2 separate regions of the Homo sapiens genome follow, and region 1 is linked to region 2. A link means that fine-mapping ties the variant in region 2 to the expression of a gene that starts in the linked region. Tissue or cell type: cerebellum. Region 2 holds a variant in brackets; the other region holds the start of a gene. All regions are shown on one strand. Distances are between the middles of the regions.

The links. PIP is the estimated chance that this variant, and not a neighbour inherited with it, causes the effect.
Region 1: it holds the start of ABCC8, and the variant in region 2 is fine-mapped to the expression of ABCC8 in cerebellum (GTEx, PIP above 0.99).

Annotation. Positions count from the first base shown.
Region 1 is chr11:17,473,275-17,481,360 of GRCh38, reverse strand. ABCC8 (ATP binding cassette subfamily C member 8) reads left to right here and starts at 4,516. Exons shown (of 39, transcript NM_000352.6): 1 at 4,516-4,732; 2 at 6,334-6,475. The coding sequence starts at 4,585. LOC124902641 (a long non-coding RNA gene) reads right to left here and starts at 4,710. Exons shown (of 2, transcript XR_007062609.1): 1 at 4,630-4,710. RefSeq lists an enhancer at 5,304-5,860.
Region 2 is chr11:17,395,619-17,403,708 of GRCh38, reverse strand. It overlaps ABCC8 (ATP binding cassette subfamily C member 8), which reads left to right. Exons shown (of 39, transcript NM_000352.6): 29 at 956-1,048; 30 at 5,268-5,370; 31 at 5,912-6,025; 32 at 6,396-6,516; 33 at 6,663-6,793; 34 at 7,779-7,857; 35 at 7,991-8,090. Among named protein-coding and RNA genes, the nearest start is that of KCNJ11, 11 kb to the right of the region's middle. The variant C/T (reference allele first, on the strand shown) is at 4,669.

The DNA.
Region 1 (8,086 bases), 78 kb before region 2:
GAAGTCCTAAGTGGGTAAGCAAGCTGAAGGCAAATATTGACTTGCTCTGGGTCACAATGGGCATGTTTTTTAAAAAAGACACCGTGTGGAAGAAAGGAAGAGGAGATATGAGATACACACAAAGGAGAAGACCACTGGGGGTACAGGAGAAATACGGGGGTTTACTAAGTTTCTGCTGTGAGTTGTGTGAATTACAACTTTTCTAGCTCTCTGTAAAGAGCTCAGTAAAGCTTTCATTTTTTTAAACCAATGGACTGGGTGTTGGCTGTTTTAGAGGATGCAAGGAGATGCTGAGTTTGACCTTAAGTGGCCTCAAGGGTATAGAGCAACCAGGCCATCCGTAGGAGTTACCCTTCTGCATTGTGTTACTGTCGTGAGGGGGATCTTGGACCAAAACTTAAGTGGGCAAGAGCAAGAATGTTATTTAATTTCTGTATCAAGTCCCCATCCCACTAGACTGGCAGAAAACATTAGCCTTGGGCCTTCTTGGATTTCCTTCCCCACCTCTCCAGTTACGTGATGCCAAGAGACCGGGGAGAGTTCGTCTTGTTCCTGCCTCACCCTCGCCATTCAAGTATGGCTGAGGGTCCCCTGCCTCTGTTGTCTAGAGGCCCTGCCCTGGGACAAGAACACCTTTCTTCAAAACAGCCCTTGTATGTGAGCCAGGCACAGTGGCTCACACCTGTAATCCCAACACTTTCAGAGGCCAAGGTTAGGGGGCGGGGGGGATCCCTTGACGCCAGGAGTTTGTGACCAGCCTGGGCAAAACAGTAATACCTCCATCTCTACAGGAAAAAAAAAATAATCTTAAAAACCTAAAAAGCCCTTGTATGGATTTTCTAACACAGTCTACACACAACCTGCCCTTTCTGGGTGGCTGTCCCCCAGCCACCTCTACAACAGACAGGCAGGGAGGCTGGGCACAGGCTCCCTCTCAAAAGAACTTCTCTCTCTACTTCCCTCCTCCTGACATGGGGCAGGATGGAGATGAGACAGGAGATCACTTCTCCCTCCCAGGTTCCAGTTAAGACATTTTGTCTCTACATCAGTCCTCTCTTTCACTGGTTCTACAGTCTTCCAAGTTCCCCTGTGGATACAGGCTTTGAGCACCTGAAGGAGACAGGAAAGGACACACCTTTCCCAGTCAGTAAGGGTCACCCGAACTTAGGCTCTGTACTTGTTCTCCACTATTCCATAGTATAGGTCACACCATGAGTTTTGCTTTTGTCTGTTTTTAACCAGGCCGCTGTTGATTGTGGTTATTGAAAGGGTTTATTTCTTCAACTATAACCCCACTCCATTACGTCACCATTGTCATTGTAATGACCCCCTCTGCCATGGTCACTGGAACACTGGCACTCCTAGTCAGCCAGATAGAGACAAAGGCACTAAGGCCAGAACAACATCAGAGCTGGAAGGGACTTTTTGTTTGTTTGTTTTGTTTTGTTTTGTTTTGAGACAGGGTCTCTCTCTGTCGCCCAGGCTGGAGTGCAGTGGCCCGATCATGGCTCACGGCAGCCTTAACCTCCCTGGCTCAAGGGATCTGGAAAGGACTTTTCTGAAGCTCTGCACCAGCCCCTTTACTGCACCCTGCCTGAGGCCACACCCACCCAGTAGCCGGTGAGTGTGAGAATCCAATCCCGGAAATCCAGCCCTAGTTTTCATTTTGCCAGGAGAATGGCTGGGAATTCTCAGAGCGGGGTACCCTTGCTCAAAGCAAGCTCTCAGAGTCTGACCTTCTTCCAGCCCCTAGCAAGAGAAACAAAAGGCATGGCTAGAGGTGGGGAAGCACCAGAGACCCAGCATCTCCCCGACAGAGGCAGACGTAGCCCTGTTACAGACATGAATGATTTTGTATGCCACACACCGCTCTGCGTCTGTGTCTTGGACATCTTCCCCTGCCAGTAAGCATAACTCTATTCTCTGCGCTTGCTCCACAGTATCCCACAGTACAGACAATATCTGTTTTTTGTCTGTTTGGGTTTTGTCTGTTTGAACCAGCCCCATACTGATGAGCATTTGGGTTGATTCCAGGAATACAACCCATATACTACAAAGGAAGTCCTTTCATGCCTCCGTGCGCACCTGACTCCACACTTTTTCAAAGTAATTCTCCCACCCACATGGTGGGCAGTGTGGTGCATGTCCTCAGTGTAGACCTAGGTGCAGGGAAAGGTGGAATTTGTCCACAGTCACACAGTAAGTTTGTGCTAGAGATGGCAAACACGAGTCCCCAAGACTCCAGACTTAACACTCTCTTAGTCCCAGTTGATGCTCCCTTAACACCAGACTTTTTGTTTGTTTCAAATGACCCAGAATAGGCAAGTGTGAGGGTTGCACCAGGCAATGTGGGGTGAGGGAGAGACCATTAAATAACCCTGATTGATCAAGGGGCTGCCGTGTGTAGTCACCCATGGGATGAAGTAGCTTGGACTATCTCCCCAACTTGCAAAGCACATTCATACCCATGATCTCATCTTAATCTTCTGGGTTCCATATTATTATCTTTTCCATTTAGAAATAAGGAAACTGAAGTGCAGAATGGTAACCTGCCCCCAAATCACACAACTAGTAGTAGTAGAGCCAGGACTAGGAGCCCTGTTCTTTAAAAGTAAATATATTATTACTGCTAAAAAGAAAGATAGCATTGCTGAAAGTGTGAAAAAACTGAAATTGTAACTACAAAAGAAAATAACAACATTGCAGAAAATATGAAAAAAAAAAACCTTGAAAGCAAGAAAAACAAACTAAAAGAAAAAATCTTACTGGGTGACCATGGACCTGTCATCTCATCTCTCTGAACCTCAGTTGTCTCATTTTTAAAGAAAGGGAATGAGGATAAGCACAGCGACGGCAGCCAGTACATACTGAGCACCGCCTTACCAAATTTCCAAGTCTGACCTTTCCCTGCAGGCTTCATGCAAGTATACATATTTCGTACGGCTATAATCATGGGAAGCACAATTTTGTTTGCCGTTTTTCACCTGACACTATCTTGTAAAGTTTTTCTATTGACTACACAGACTCAGCTAGCACCGTCCCAGCAGTTGCATTTTTCAAGGTTGATTAACCCCTGTCCCTGGTGCTGGATATTTCTTGCCACCAAGTTTTCACTATTTTGGCTGATGCTGCAAGAAACATCTTTTGGCTTCTGAGAAATTCTCCAAAGTCAGAGACTGAGGCATTCAGACCCTGAACTCCTGCTTTCCCAAGGCTTTTCACCCAACCCCATCTGCCCTCTGCCTCAGGGCCTGGGCAGAGCCTCGGCCTTGCTGACAGCGTGCTGGAGAGGCTCACCAGGCTCAGCAGCCTCAGGGCAGGCTCAGTGAAGCTTGTAGGCAAAGGGGCTGAAGGGGTCTTTCTTTTGTGTTCCCCTGACTGTTCCTAAGAACATGTGCATTTATGCTTCATACCCTAACTAGGAAAGTTCTCCTTAAATCTAACCCCCAAATCCCATCTTCTGTTCTTTCTACATACAATATAAACTTCTTTGGGCCACAGTCTTGTGAGAATCTCTCCAAAACGTATAGGAAGACATAATGTTGTCTTTACAATTGCACGGTGTCCTCCAACTGTTAAGCCTGTCCCAGGTGAGGTTAAGAATTTCAGTCCCTCTCCACTGCCTCACATCCATCTGGCCAGATGCGTTTCTTAAACTCCTCTTTATCAGCCTGGGGCTGTCACCCATTCTACCCATTGGTCTGCCAGTCGCTGTAAGGTTGTCATGTACCAGAGGCATGAGTACAAATGATGGGGGTGGGGACGGGGGACCTGAGGAGCTGGGTTCAAGCTATGCTTCCCTGCTTGCTGGCACTGAGACCTTGGGGGAAGTCATGTTACTGGCCTCCCTTCAGCTCCCTCGCAGCTTGGGTTTCCCCATCAGAAAATTGGAAGCGATTAGAACCTGTACTTAGCAAGAGTTCTGGGACATCCCTTGTGTGAAAGTGCCAGATACGCTGTAAAGCAGTACCTAGGAGTGCCCCACCTGGGACCACTTTTGAAAATGTCCAAGCCCCACCCCACCACCACCACCACCACAAGGTAACGTTCTGCCCCACTTTTCTCATCCATGTTGGGTGGAGACTTGCGCCATCCCTCGGCTCTCTACATCCATCCGCACCACGCCCAGGTGAACTCACACTCGGGACCCTGAACCCGCCCACTCCAGGCCTTGCGGGCCCTTCTCTCCTCTTCTGCACGCCCCACCCTCCTTTCCCACCCAGACTCCAGTGTGCCCACACCCCACTCCCCATCTTAGCCTGCCTTTCCCCTCTCCCCCAGCGCACGCGTGCATCAGGGCACTCACGAAGCCACCCCGGCAACATCTGGGAGCACGCGCCTCCACATCTGGAAGGTGGGCGCAAGCGTAGCAGGGCCGGTCGGGTTCCTCGCCGCCCCCCGGCCCCGCAGGTGGTGGAGCAGGGCGGGGTGAGGGAGGGGGAGGCCAGCGGGGCTGGGCGGGGCCCGGGGGGCGGGGGCCTGACGGCCGGGCCGGGCGGCGGAGCTGCAAGGGACAGAGGCGCGGCAGGCGCGCGGAGCCAGCGGAGCCAGCTGAGCCCGAGCCCAGCCCGCGCCCGCGCCGCCATGCCCCTGGCCTTCTGCGGCAGCGAGAACCACTCGGCCGCCTACCGGGTGGACCAGGGGGTCCTCAACAACGGCTGCTTTGTGGACGCGCTCAACGTGGTGCCGCACGTCTTCCTACTCTTCATCACCTTCCCCATCCTCTTCATTGGTGAGTGCGCGCAGCGAGCCGCGGAGGAGGGGACGGGAGAGCAGGGAGGGAGGAGGAGGCGCTGCGCGCCGCACCGCTCGGCGTCCCCTTCCGGCCCGCGACCGCCGTCCGCCTCGTTCCCGGGGTCCCCTGCCCTGTGTCCTGCCCGCCGGTCCCCGCACTCGCACACCAGCTCATCCCTTCACTCCCCCGGTGCCCCCGATCCCGCGCCAAACACAGCGGACGTTTGTGACCCATGGGATCACCAAGTTTTGCTTCTGCAGGGCCAAGAGCTGGGATGGGGAAAAGGGAAAGAGGAGGTCTCAGCACGCAGTGGGAAACTGGAGAGGGGTCGGGCCTCACCCTCCGTGGCGCAGCTTAGGGAGCCGGGTCACCCCTCCCGCAAGGCAGCCTCCCTGTCAGCCGCAGCTGGGCCTAGGGAAGAGGGAAGCCTGTGCTTTGGAGTCTGGGATGGAGGCCCAGCTAACCCCTATGCTTTCACCGGGCTGAGCCGCGCAGTGGTCCGTGATCTCTGACAGTCCCAGGCCCGCGCCCTGGGCGAGGAGAGGCGAGAGCTAGGGACTTGGATTCCCTTCCCCCGCCACCCCACCCGGGCATGTGTCTCCAGAGCGCAACTTCTCAGGCTCTGCGCAAAGTAGCTCCGACTCGCCGACGCAGCGACCCCGGCGCCCTTGCTTGCAAAGTTGGGCGCCACGGCCGGGACAATCGTGCGTGCCTCTCCACTGAGGTCCCCCCCATCTCTCTCCAAGACCTTGACTCTTCCAGACCAGTCAAGTCTATCAACTCATAGGGTGTCCCCTGCATCCCCAAAACGTGTTCATTCACTTTAAGAAAACAAGCAAATCTTAAAATTCATATACAGCTTTGGGGAAGAAAGGAAAGATTGTCACAAAATTAGATTTACAAGAGGTTGCTGCAGAAGCAGAGTTGCTAGTTATTAACAAAGACAGTTAGATAGAAATAGAAATAAAACATACAAAATATGTGCTCATATGTGCATCAAAAATCAAAAAAGAACAGCATTTACACTTCTGTTCTCAGCCAAACGGTTTATTAACCTGATGACTTGTCACACAAGAAGTTAGTATGTATAATGGGGTACCTTGGCAGGGCACAGTGGCTTACATCTGTAATCTCAGCATTTTGGTGGGCTGTGACAGGAAGACTGCTTGAGTCCAGGAGTTCGAGACCAGCCTGGGCAACATAGTGAGACCCCCCCCGCCCTTTCTACAAAAAATTAAAAATTAGCTGAGCATGGTGATGTGCGCCTGTAGTCCCAGCTACTCAGGAGGCTGAGGCGGGAGGATCACTTGAGCCTAGGAGATCAAGGCTGTAGTGAGCCGTGATCGTGGCACTGCACTCCAGCAGAGGCAACAGAGCAAGACCCTGTCTCAGTAAAAAGGTGTGGTGGGGGAGGTACCAGCATAGGACCAGGCTGAATGAGTTGGACGTTTAGTTTGTGTGTACCAGCCTTGGGGATCCTCATGTGTAGGTGTCACCCTCACCATGGACCCAATGCCCAAGCACCTTTCTGGGGTTCATGCACCCTCTTCCTCCTCCAAGTGGGCAGGCATCCTGCCTCTGACTGTCTCTCCCTGCAGGATGGGGAAGTCAGAGCTCCAAGGTGCACATCCACCACAGCACATGGCTTCATTTCCCTGGGCACAACCTGCGGTGGATCCTGACCTTCATGCTGCTCTTCGTCCTGGTGTGTGAGATTGCAGAGGGCATCCTGTCTGATGGGTGAGTGACTGTCTGAGGACTCAGGAAAGTGAATCTGCTCCAGGGTACTTCCTGAAAGGCCCAAGGAGATCCTAGCTCACCTATATTCCACAAGCCCATGTCTTTTGTTACTACATCCAGCAGCTCAGTGTCTTCTATGTGCCAACCTCTCTGAGCTGGGCACTGGACGCAAGTGAGTCCCAGGCCCTGCCATCAGTCCAGGAGAGCAGAGGGAACACGGACCTGCATGCCAAGTCCCAGTGAAATAATGCTAGAGCCTATTAGAATGCCACAACTCCAGTGAAAAATGTCTGGCCTCTTCTACAACCTGCCGGAGTTACCTTCTTGGAAAAAAAAAAAAATCTAACCATGCCACCCACTCTTGCATAAGACCTTTCCTTGGTTCTCAGCTGTTTTGAAGATGTGGTCTCAGATCCTCAGCCCACCATTCAAGGTCTTCACAGTCAGCCCCACCTATCTCTGGCCTCATTCCCCATGCCCACCTTCCGTTTGGGCCTCACAGCACACTCCTCACACCTCTGCTACAGCACAGATCACACTGTATGTTAAAGTTTATGTCTATTTGCAAAACTGTCTTCAGAGTCAGAAAGGCCTAAGAGTTAGAATCTGAGTCTTGTTCATCTTTGTGTTCACAGTGCAAGGCATGTGATAAACATAAACATTATTCAGTCCATAAACATTTATTGGGTCCTTAGGAGAATGAATGAAACCATGTTACAAATAAGTACTCTGGGAGGTGAGAGGAAGGCAGAATTGGGCAAGCTCCATGGTTGAGAGGGCTTTGGAGCGGAGTCTGGAAGGGTGACTAGGCTTCAGACACACAGAGGAGGAAGGAGAGAGAGAACTGGTGGTGCCTGAGGGAAGGGAAAAGGCACCAAAGAGAAAAGCAGGTAGGGCTAGGGAGCAGCGCAGGGGCTGGAGCATTAAACACAGGCTGGGGAGCGATGGAGGCTGAGGCTGGGAACCCAGGTTGGGGCATCTCAGGAGGACTGTGAATCCCAGCCTGCATGTTTGGGTCGGATTTGGTCAGCAGTTTGGAACAGAAGAGAGATGTCATCAGCATAACACTTTTAGGTGGGAACCTGAGGTGTTCAGCGCAGGCTGGAGGCAGGGAGAATCTAGAGGTATAATAGAAGCAGGACTTAGCATTGACTGCAGTAGTCTAGGTGAGCAATAACTGCAGACAGAAATGGTGTGTCAGCAGTCAGGGACAGAAGAGGAGCGGGAGCAGCCATCTCACTAAGGAAGAATCCAGTAACCAGCAAGGATGAGAGACTGCCAGGAGAGGGAGTGGTGGAGGAGAGGGATATTTGGCTTGAGTATCTGAGGTCCAGCGCCCCCTGAGCTGGAATCAGATTATACCCAGACTGCACTCCTGCAGTGCTGCCTGGCTCCTGTAGTTGGATGGCAGGGGATAGGCTCCCTCATCCTCCCTCCCGTTCCCCACCTTCCCTTCCCCAATGTCCCTGCATCCTGGCTTCAGCAGTGATCTCTAAAATACCTGCTTGACTTGGAGGCAGCAGCTCTGCCTGCTTATTAAAGTCCCTAGACCAGCAAGAAGACCAGAAGGCATACTGCTACACAAGCACGTGACAAGTCCGCCTCCACCCC
Region 2 (8,090 bases):
CTGATTTGTGAGATAAAATATATTTCTGACTGCAGGTTGTGGTCAGAAAGGTTAAGTACCTTTCCCAAGTGCACATAGTTGGCTAGAAACTAGAGTTGAGATACTTATTAGCAATAATAAAATTTAGATGCATTTTGGACACAATTACCTGCCCCAAAGGATCAACATTTGTATAAATGGCTTTTTGCTTGGATGATCCAGAATGGCCCGACACCCACACGAACAACATAGCTTTTTGACACTCAAAAAATTCAAAGTGCTGCACAAGCTGTTCTACAAAGTTCATTTCTTCTGCCAGAGAAACAGCCCAGTCTCTGTGGCACCCAGTCTGACCCTGGAGATGGTTTATCAGGGAAATCAACTTCCTGCATCCCAAACTGGCCTCCCTGGCACTGATGTGCTTGTCGAGGTGCAGCTTTGGGGAGCAGGAGGCAATTCTGTTGCCATGGAAACCTCTGGCCTTACCCCGAGACGAAACCTATCATTTCAGCACATCACTGGCCAGGGTCTAAAGAGCTCCTTGATGGGGTAAGCGGAAGACGGGGTTGAACGCTTTGAGTTTGGTCTTCTGTTCCTTTGGCCAGCTGTCTCAAGGTTCAGATTGTTCACCTGTAAAATGGAACTAGCACTGCCTGCCCAGCCTTAGCTCAGCTCCAGGCTGTGCAGCAGAAGTACAGGGACAGATGGCGACCTGGGGTTGACAATGCCCAGGACAGCAGTAATTGTGCCCCACATCAGGCTGTGTCTAAGCATTGTACATAAACGATCTCATTCAGTGCTCACAAAAGCTCAATGGGCTGGTGGCATTGTCTTCCCCCTTCACGGGGTAAGAAGCTGAGGCCTAGAGAGGTAAGGCCATTCACCCACACAGCGGTAGCAGGTGGAGCTAGGCTTCAGGCCCAGGCCGAGCCCTGAGCCTGCCCTCTTAACTGTTCCACTCTGTTCCCCGCCACAGGGACCTGCAGCAGCTGGATGACACCACCCAGCTTCCACTTCTCTCACACTTTGCCGAAACCGTAGAAGGACTCACCACCATCCGGGCCTTCAGGTACGAGTCCACATTCCCCCAAGGTAGGAGTGGAACAGGGGTGGGGCCAGGGGGCACAGGCCATGAGATTTGATTCTCAGGACTCCACTTGGGAAGGCCAAGGACACGTTCTCTCTCAAGCTGCCTCAGGTCCCAAGGCCCAAGGGATATCCACCAGCAGGGACAGGCCAGGTGGGCTCCCACTGAATGTTCTAGAGAGGAAAATTCCAGCTCTGTAGACAAGCCCAGGACCTCTGTGAGGCAGAGCATGAAAAGAGACAAAGCTGGGACAAGTCTTCATGTATCAACGCTAGAAAGGGCCTTAGGTGCGGGCCACCCTAAGCCCTTCTTTTATTAAGGAGCCCCTGTGTGCCAAACACTATGCTGAGTACTGTACAGGCCAATCCCACTCATTCTGCACTGCAACCCTCGGTGCTGAGAATGGTCATTTCCATTGCACAGACAAGGAAACTGAGGCACAGAGACGTTCTATAACCTCTCTGTGTAAGGTGCCACAAAGCCCAGACTTGAACCTATTTGTTCATGCAACAAACATTTACTAAGCCCCGACTATGTGCTAAGCCCCATGCCAGGCACTAAAAAGATGAGTCAAATAAGCCGCTGCCCTGCAGGCGTTTACAGCCCAGACTTTGAGCAGGCCAGGATAAATCCACGTGACAAGTATTCTGAAAAAAGCGGATTCAAGGGCTGTGGGAGCATAGAAGAGAGACAGTCCGGGAAGGTTTTTGTACCAGAGGTGTCATCAGAACTAGGACTCAAAGGAGGGGCAGGAGTTCACCAGGCTGAGGAATTCCTGAAAACTTCAGTGCCCCTGCCATCGTCTCACTACCCTGAGTGGTGATGTTGGGGTGGACAGGAGCATCTGAGGTTGCCTGGGGAATGAGGGAAGCTGTTGTTTCCCACTCCCCAAGAGTCTGTCTGATCTCCAGAGGCATCTCTCTTCCAGTCAGGCAGGCCAGAGACCCCTGACACACAAAGTTGGGCTCTTTTCTCATCTTCATCCAGAGAGTGATAATAGGTTATTTTTAGGGTGGCACAGCTGCACGAAGTATGACAGTAACCATGAGACACCAAGCACTGTGTCCAGGAGTAACCATAGGGCACAAGGACCAGCCAAGGGCCAGAGAGGCTTACATCTCCTCCCCCCAACCCCTGAAGTCCAGCTTCAGCCCTGGAGAGGTATCCAGGCCCCTCTGCCCACCCTGGAGCACCTAGGGCCAGTGGAAATCCACCTCTTAGGGATCTTGTCTAAGTAAAGAAGAGCAGAGCAAAGCTCTGCCCTGGCCTTGGCGCTGCTCCCTGGACATCCCTTGCCCCTGGACAAGCCTATGCTGTGTCTTCCACAAAGAAGCTTGCTGGGGACTGGATTATGACTCTAGAGTCTCCTCCCAGCCTCCTCTTCTCAAGCCTGAACTTCTCCCGTTCCTTCAACTTCCAGGTCCCTCGACATTACTGAGCCTAGCCTTTGCTCTAAGTTTTGGTGATTTCCCTCTCTCAATTGGTGTCTCAGAGGGCCCTGGGGTAGAGAGATGGTGACTCTTCTAGAGTGGGCCACAGCCCCTTGTGTGCAGATCCCAGCTTCCTGTAAACAGCCTCAGATCAGGCCAAACCTGTGGTCAGCCAGAGCCACTGCTACCCAGTGAGGTCTTCCACACCCTACTGACACGGTGAATGATTTTTAAATTTGAATGAAAGGCTTTTTAATCAACCCCATACACATTTAATGCATTGGCTTTAATCCAGCAGCCTGTTGAGAGCTATTAGCACTTATTGATTGCCCACTTACTGTATGCCAGGCACCGTGCTAAGTGTTGTATGTGCATTATTACATTTAATCCTCACAAGGACCACATAACATAGGTACGAATCGCCACATTCTCCAGATGCAGAAGCGAGACCCAGAGAGGCTGGGTAATCAATCCAAGGTCACACAGACTGCGGGGGCTGGCGCTGAGCTTGGAACCCAGGTTTGCCTGACCTTCTGGGCTTTCCTAAGAGATCTTATTTTTTCCCAAAAGAGTTTCAAGAGTGCCCAGCACTGGGCTCAGTGGCGGGCTCGGAGGTTGTTTTCGTTCATGTAGGAACTATCACTTCCCCATTTTTTTCATAAGAAAACTGAGTCTCAGTCCTGATACACAGCCAGGAAGTTGTGATGTTCAGGCTCCAACCTGGGTTTACATGGCTCCGAGGCTGGGGCTCTTTTCTAGTCCTCAGACACACTGTCGCACGCCTGTGGCAGAAGCTCCCATCTCACACTTGCCGACCCTCAACTCACACAGTCCTGAGACCCACATACGCTGAGCGCCTCACACTCCTATAACACGCACATGCCCTGATGCACACACATTTTCAACACGCACTTACTCTACCCTTCAGGCATGGTTTCACACTCACTGCAGACACGTCACCCTCCCACACGTCTCCACCCTGGGGGTGTGCAGTAGCATGCTCTCTCCCACCTCAGAACCTCCCTTCAGTCCCCTCAGACACATGCCCTCTCTCCACGCAGAGACAATCAAAGCTGAACTAACACCTTCCAGGGTGAAAAGCAAATGCCCAGTAAGGTACGTCTTGGGTGCCTCCGTGTCCCCTGAGTTTGGTCCTATCAAACCAGCGATGATGAGGCAGCTTTTCTTTCGTTCCTTCCTCCATCATCAAACAAGTGCTCCTGCATCTCCTCTGGGCCGGGCCTACGTCAGCAAGGTCTGAGGGAAGCGGCCAAGGAGAGTGATGACGGCAGCCCAGGTTGATCAGAGAAAGGAGGCAGGTCCATGCGCAGTAACTCAGGGAAAACATGATGAGGACCTAAGGATGAGAAAGAAGCCTCCAGAGTTCCCTGTGCAGAGAGATTCCATCAATTTCAGAGGGTCAGGGGAGTGCCATGCATTCATCCAACAAATATTTATTGATAGTGCCAGGTGCTGGGGTATATTGGTGAATAAAACATCTTCATGGAATTTGCAGTCTATTGAGGGAGATGATTATAAATAGCTAGAGAAATGCATGTACAGCAGATACTGTGGAGCAAACAGGTTGCAGACAATAATAGGGGAAACCTACTTTATAGTAAGGTAGTAGCCAGGAAGAGCCTCTCTGAGGAGGCAGCATTTAAGGCAAGCCCTGAAGGTTGAGTTGAGCCAGCCTTATGAAGAGCAAGGGCAAAAGCCTTCCAGGAAAAGGGAATAGTGTGTGCAAAGGCCCTGGGGTAGGGAAGACTTTAGTATTGTCACAGAGCTTTTAAAAAGCTGAGTGGCTGCAGCATAGTGTGTGGGGTGTTTGTGGCAGGAATTAGGTTGGCAGGAGGGGGTTCTTCATCCTATAAGCAGTGGAAGGTCATTAATATTCTTTTTTATTTGTTTTTTTTTTTTTTTTTTTTTTTTTTTTTGAGGCAGAGTCTCACTTTGTCACCCAGGCTGGAGTGCAGTGAGGTGATCTTGGCTCACTGCAACCTCCACCTCCCGGGTTCAAGCAATTATCCTGGCTTCCTCAGCCTCCCAAGTAGCTGGGATTACAGGTGTGCACCACCATGCCCAGCTACTAATTTTTGTATTATTAGTAGAGACAGAATTCCACCATGTTGGCCAGGCTGGTCTTGAACTCTTGACCTCAGGTGATCCGCC[C/T]GCCTCAGCCTCCCAAAGTGCTGGGATTACAGGGGTGAGTCACCGCATCCGGCCGGAGATCATTAATATTCTAAACAGTGGGGGAGAGGACACAGTTTGCGATTTAGATAGATTAAGCCAGCCACTGTGTGGAGCATGGACTGTAGGGAGACAGCAGGTAGACGTATTCAGGAAGCTGATGCAGTAGTCCAGGTGAGAGTTTGTGGTGGGCAGGAAGCAGGATAGAGGGGGAGGGAGGCAAGGACTCTTTTAGAGAGAGACATAAGAGGACTTGCCAAGGGGCTGAATGTGAATCCAGGTGATTCCTGGGTGAGAAACTGGGTAAAGGGAGGTGCCCCTTATTATAATGGGAAAGACCTAGAGAAAATGGATCTTGGGGTGAAAACAAGAGTTTGGAGGAGGTGGGGATTCTGGACAGGTTTGAATAAGCAGAAAGGAGTGGGGTGGACATTCCAGAGAGGGATAGCTTACATGAAGTGGCCACGGTGGCATGTCTGGGGACTGGAGGGGCCCTGGAGCCTCCCTCTGCAGGTAGGGAGACTCCTAGGAGCTATGTGGACCAACACTGTTCCCTTAGGAGCTTCTCATCCTCCCTCCAGGTATGAGGCCCGGTTCCAGCAGAAGCTTCTCGAATACACAGACTCCAACAACATTGCTTCCCTCTTCCTCACAGCTGCCAACAGATGGCTGGAAGTCCGAATGGCAAGTGCTATTCCCCTCTACCCTGGCCTCTGATAGGAGGGTGGGGCCAGAGCAAGAGCACACAGGTACCTGGGGATGAAAGAGAGGATAGGATACCAGATCGTGTGGACACCAAGCCTTCCTGCTTCCCCCAGCCCTGGTGGTCCTCCTAGTGTCTAGCCTGTGCTCCTTTTCCCCATATCACTGCCTGGAGGCTTGTGTATCTGAGGTGTGTGCCAGTGGCAAGAACAGTTGTGGTGAATGTGTATCTGCAGTGGGTCATATGACACCCACATTGTGTGTGTTTGTGGGCCAGCTGAGGCGTGCATGTTAAAGGGTGTGCAGGGGCTAGGGGGTAGGGGAGCATGAGCTTGTGGGACATGTTGGCTCCTGGGGCTCCAGCCTTCGCAGCCCTTGTGTGTGTCTGGTGACGTGTGCATGAGTTGCAGGGCTGGAGTGGAGGCCTGGCTGAGCTGCTCTCTGCCCCGAAAAGGAGTGAGGTAGAACAGGGGCCTGTGGCTCTAACCCCTGAGCGCCCAGGTCAGCTCCTCTCCCTCCCCAGGAGTACATCGGTGCATGTGTGGTGCTCATCGCAGCGGTGACCTCCATCTCCAACTCCCTGCACAGGGAGCTCTCTGCTGGCCTGGTGGGCCTGGGCCTTACCTACGCCCTAATGGTGAGCGGCAGTGGGCTAGGGCAGAGGAGGGGTCAGACACCAGCACTCCCGGAGCACCTTCGTCACTGGAGACATGAGACACTCCCAGGCCTTACCCCAATTTCATTTGCATCTGATGCCAGAGGGACAGTGCGGGCAGGAAGGCTGACCAGCAGGCCCCAGGGCCCAGGCCCCAGACAGGTGGAGGTTGGGGAGCCACATGACTGACCCTCCCTGTGCCTCCAGGGAGGGCTGCTCTGAGCAGGCAGTGGATGGCAGCAAAAGGAATCTGGGGCCCTGGCCCCTCTCCAGCCTTAAGAAGAGCCATTCTGGTGGCTGAGGACAGAACTAAGCGACCATGGAGTGTGCGCCACTGGCTTGCTCCCCACAGGTCTCCAACTACCTCAACTGGATGGTGAGGAACCTGGCAGACATGGAGCTCCAGCTGGGGGCTGTGAAGCGCATCCATGGGCTCCTGAAAACCGAGGCAGAGAGCTACGAGGGGCTCCTGGGTGAGAGGCTCAGGGAGAGGGGTGGGGAAGAGTCCAAGGAGGAGTGTGTCTGGGTTGGGGGCCACAAGGGAGCCTGGGGATGGGGTGGCACTTTCGGATACTAGCTGTGGCCCATGCCTGGTGGCTGAGCCCAGCCCGGCCCCCAGCACCATCGCTGATCCCAAAGAACTGGCCAGACCAAGGGAAGATCCAGATCCAGAACCTGAGCGTGCGCTACGACAGCTCCCTGAAGCCGGTGCTGAAGCACGTCAATGCCCTCATCGCCCCTGGACAGAAGGTCAGAGCACGGGCCCAACCCAATGCTGCAGGACAGGCGTGAGCAGGGGATGGGGCATGCACGGAGCTGGATGGCTTCGCAGTCACCTCGTGGCCCTCCAGGGCCGAGGCCTCTCACTATTCAGACATCGCAGTCTCCTGCCCTGGGCCTGTGGGGGCCCATCTTTCCTCTCCTTCTATTGCCTTCCCCCAGTGCTGCCCTCAGGCCTTGTCTTCTCACTCATCCACCAAGGAGACCGACACTCTGGACTCCCCCAGCTCACACGGGCTTTGTCAGGGCCTCCCTCTCTGCGAATGGTCAGGGGCTTTCCCTAGGGCACTGCCCCGAGCTTCAGGGCAGGGACCTGGGGGCAGACAGCGAGGCCACCCTTGTATTGAGGGTGAGCCCCTGCCTATGGCCCTGGCCCAGCTCTCCTCTCGTTTCCCACTCTGTCTCTTTGTCTCTGTCTCACTTTGCTGTGGCTGTCCATGTCATTCTCTGACCTTGGGATGTACCTCTGTCCCTGCCTCTCTCATCCTTCTATGTCACTATCTGTCTCCGTATTGTAATTTCTGTTGGTACCCAAGTGCCAGGAAGCAACGGGATCAGAGGTGGCTCCATTGTAGGGCGGGGCACACAGACACATCCATGCATACCACTCTCAGCTGCCCCTGTGTCCTCCTGCCACACCCATGCCCATAGAGACACACCACTGCCCCCCAGCTCTCCTTCAGCCAAGTACCCGGCACACCCAGACCCACACCAAGGCCCAGGCAAATGGACATCCATGCCTGCACTTGCGTGCCGGTCCCTGTGTAAGCCCTCTCTGGACCCACTGCAGGAAACAAGCCCAAACCTGTGGTGTCCAAAGAGAAACTAGTCAGAAAACCAGGCCAAAAAGATACCCTGTGACCTCCCACACCTGCACACACACCCAGAGCTAGCATAGAGGCTATTCCCAGCAGCCCCAGAGTCCCAGTGGCGGTGCCTGCTTCTCTCTTTCCAGATCGGGATCTGCGGCCGCACCGGCAGTGGGAAGTCCTCCTTCTCTCTTGCCTTCTTCCGCATGGTGGACACGTTCGAAGGTGAGTTGTAAGGCGGGCACCCCACGTGTACCCACAGCCACCAGATGAGGCCTCAGCCCTGGCACGTGGTCAGACATGACAGGAGGCCCAGCAGTCACCGCCTTCCCCTGCACCCTCACTGGGACCCATGCAGGGCACATCATCATTGATGGCATTGACATCGCCAAACTGCCGCTGCACACCCTGCGCTCACGCCTCTCCATCATCCTGCAGGACCCCGTCCTCTTCAGCGG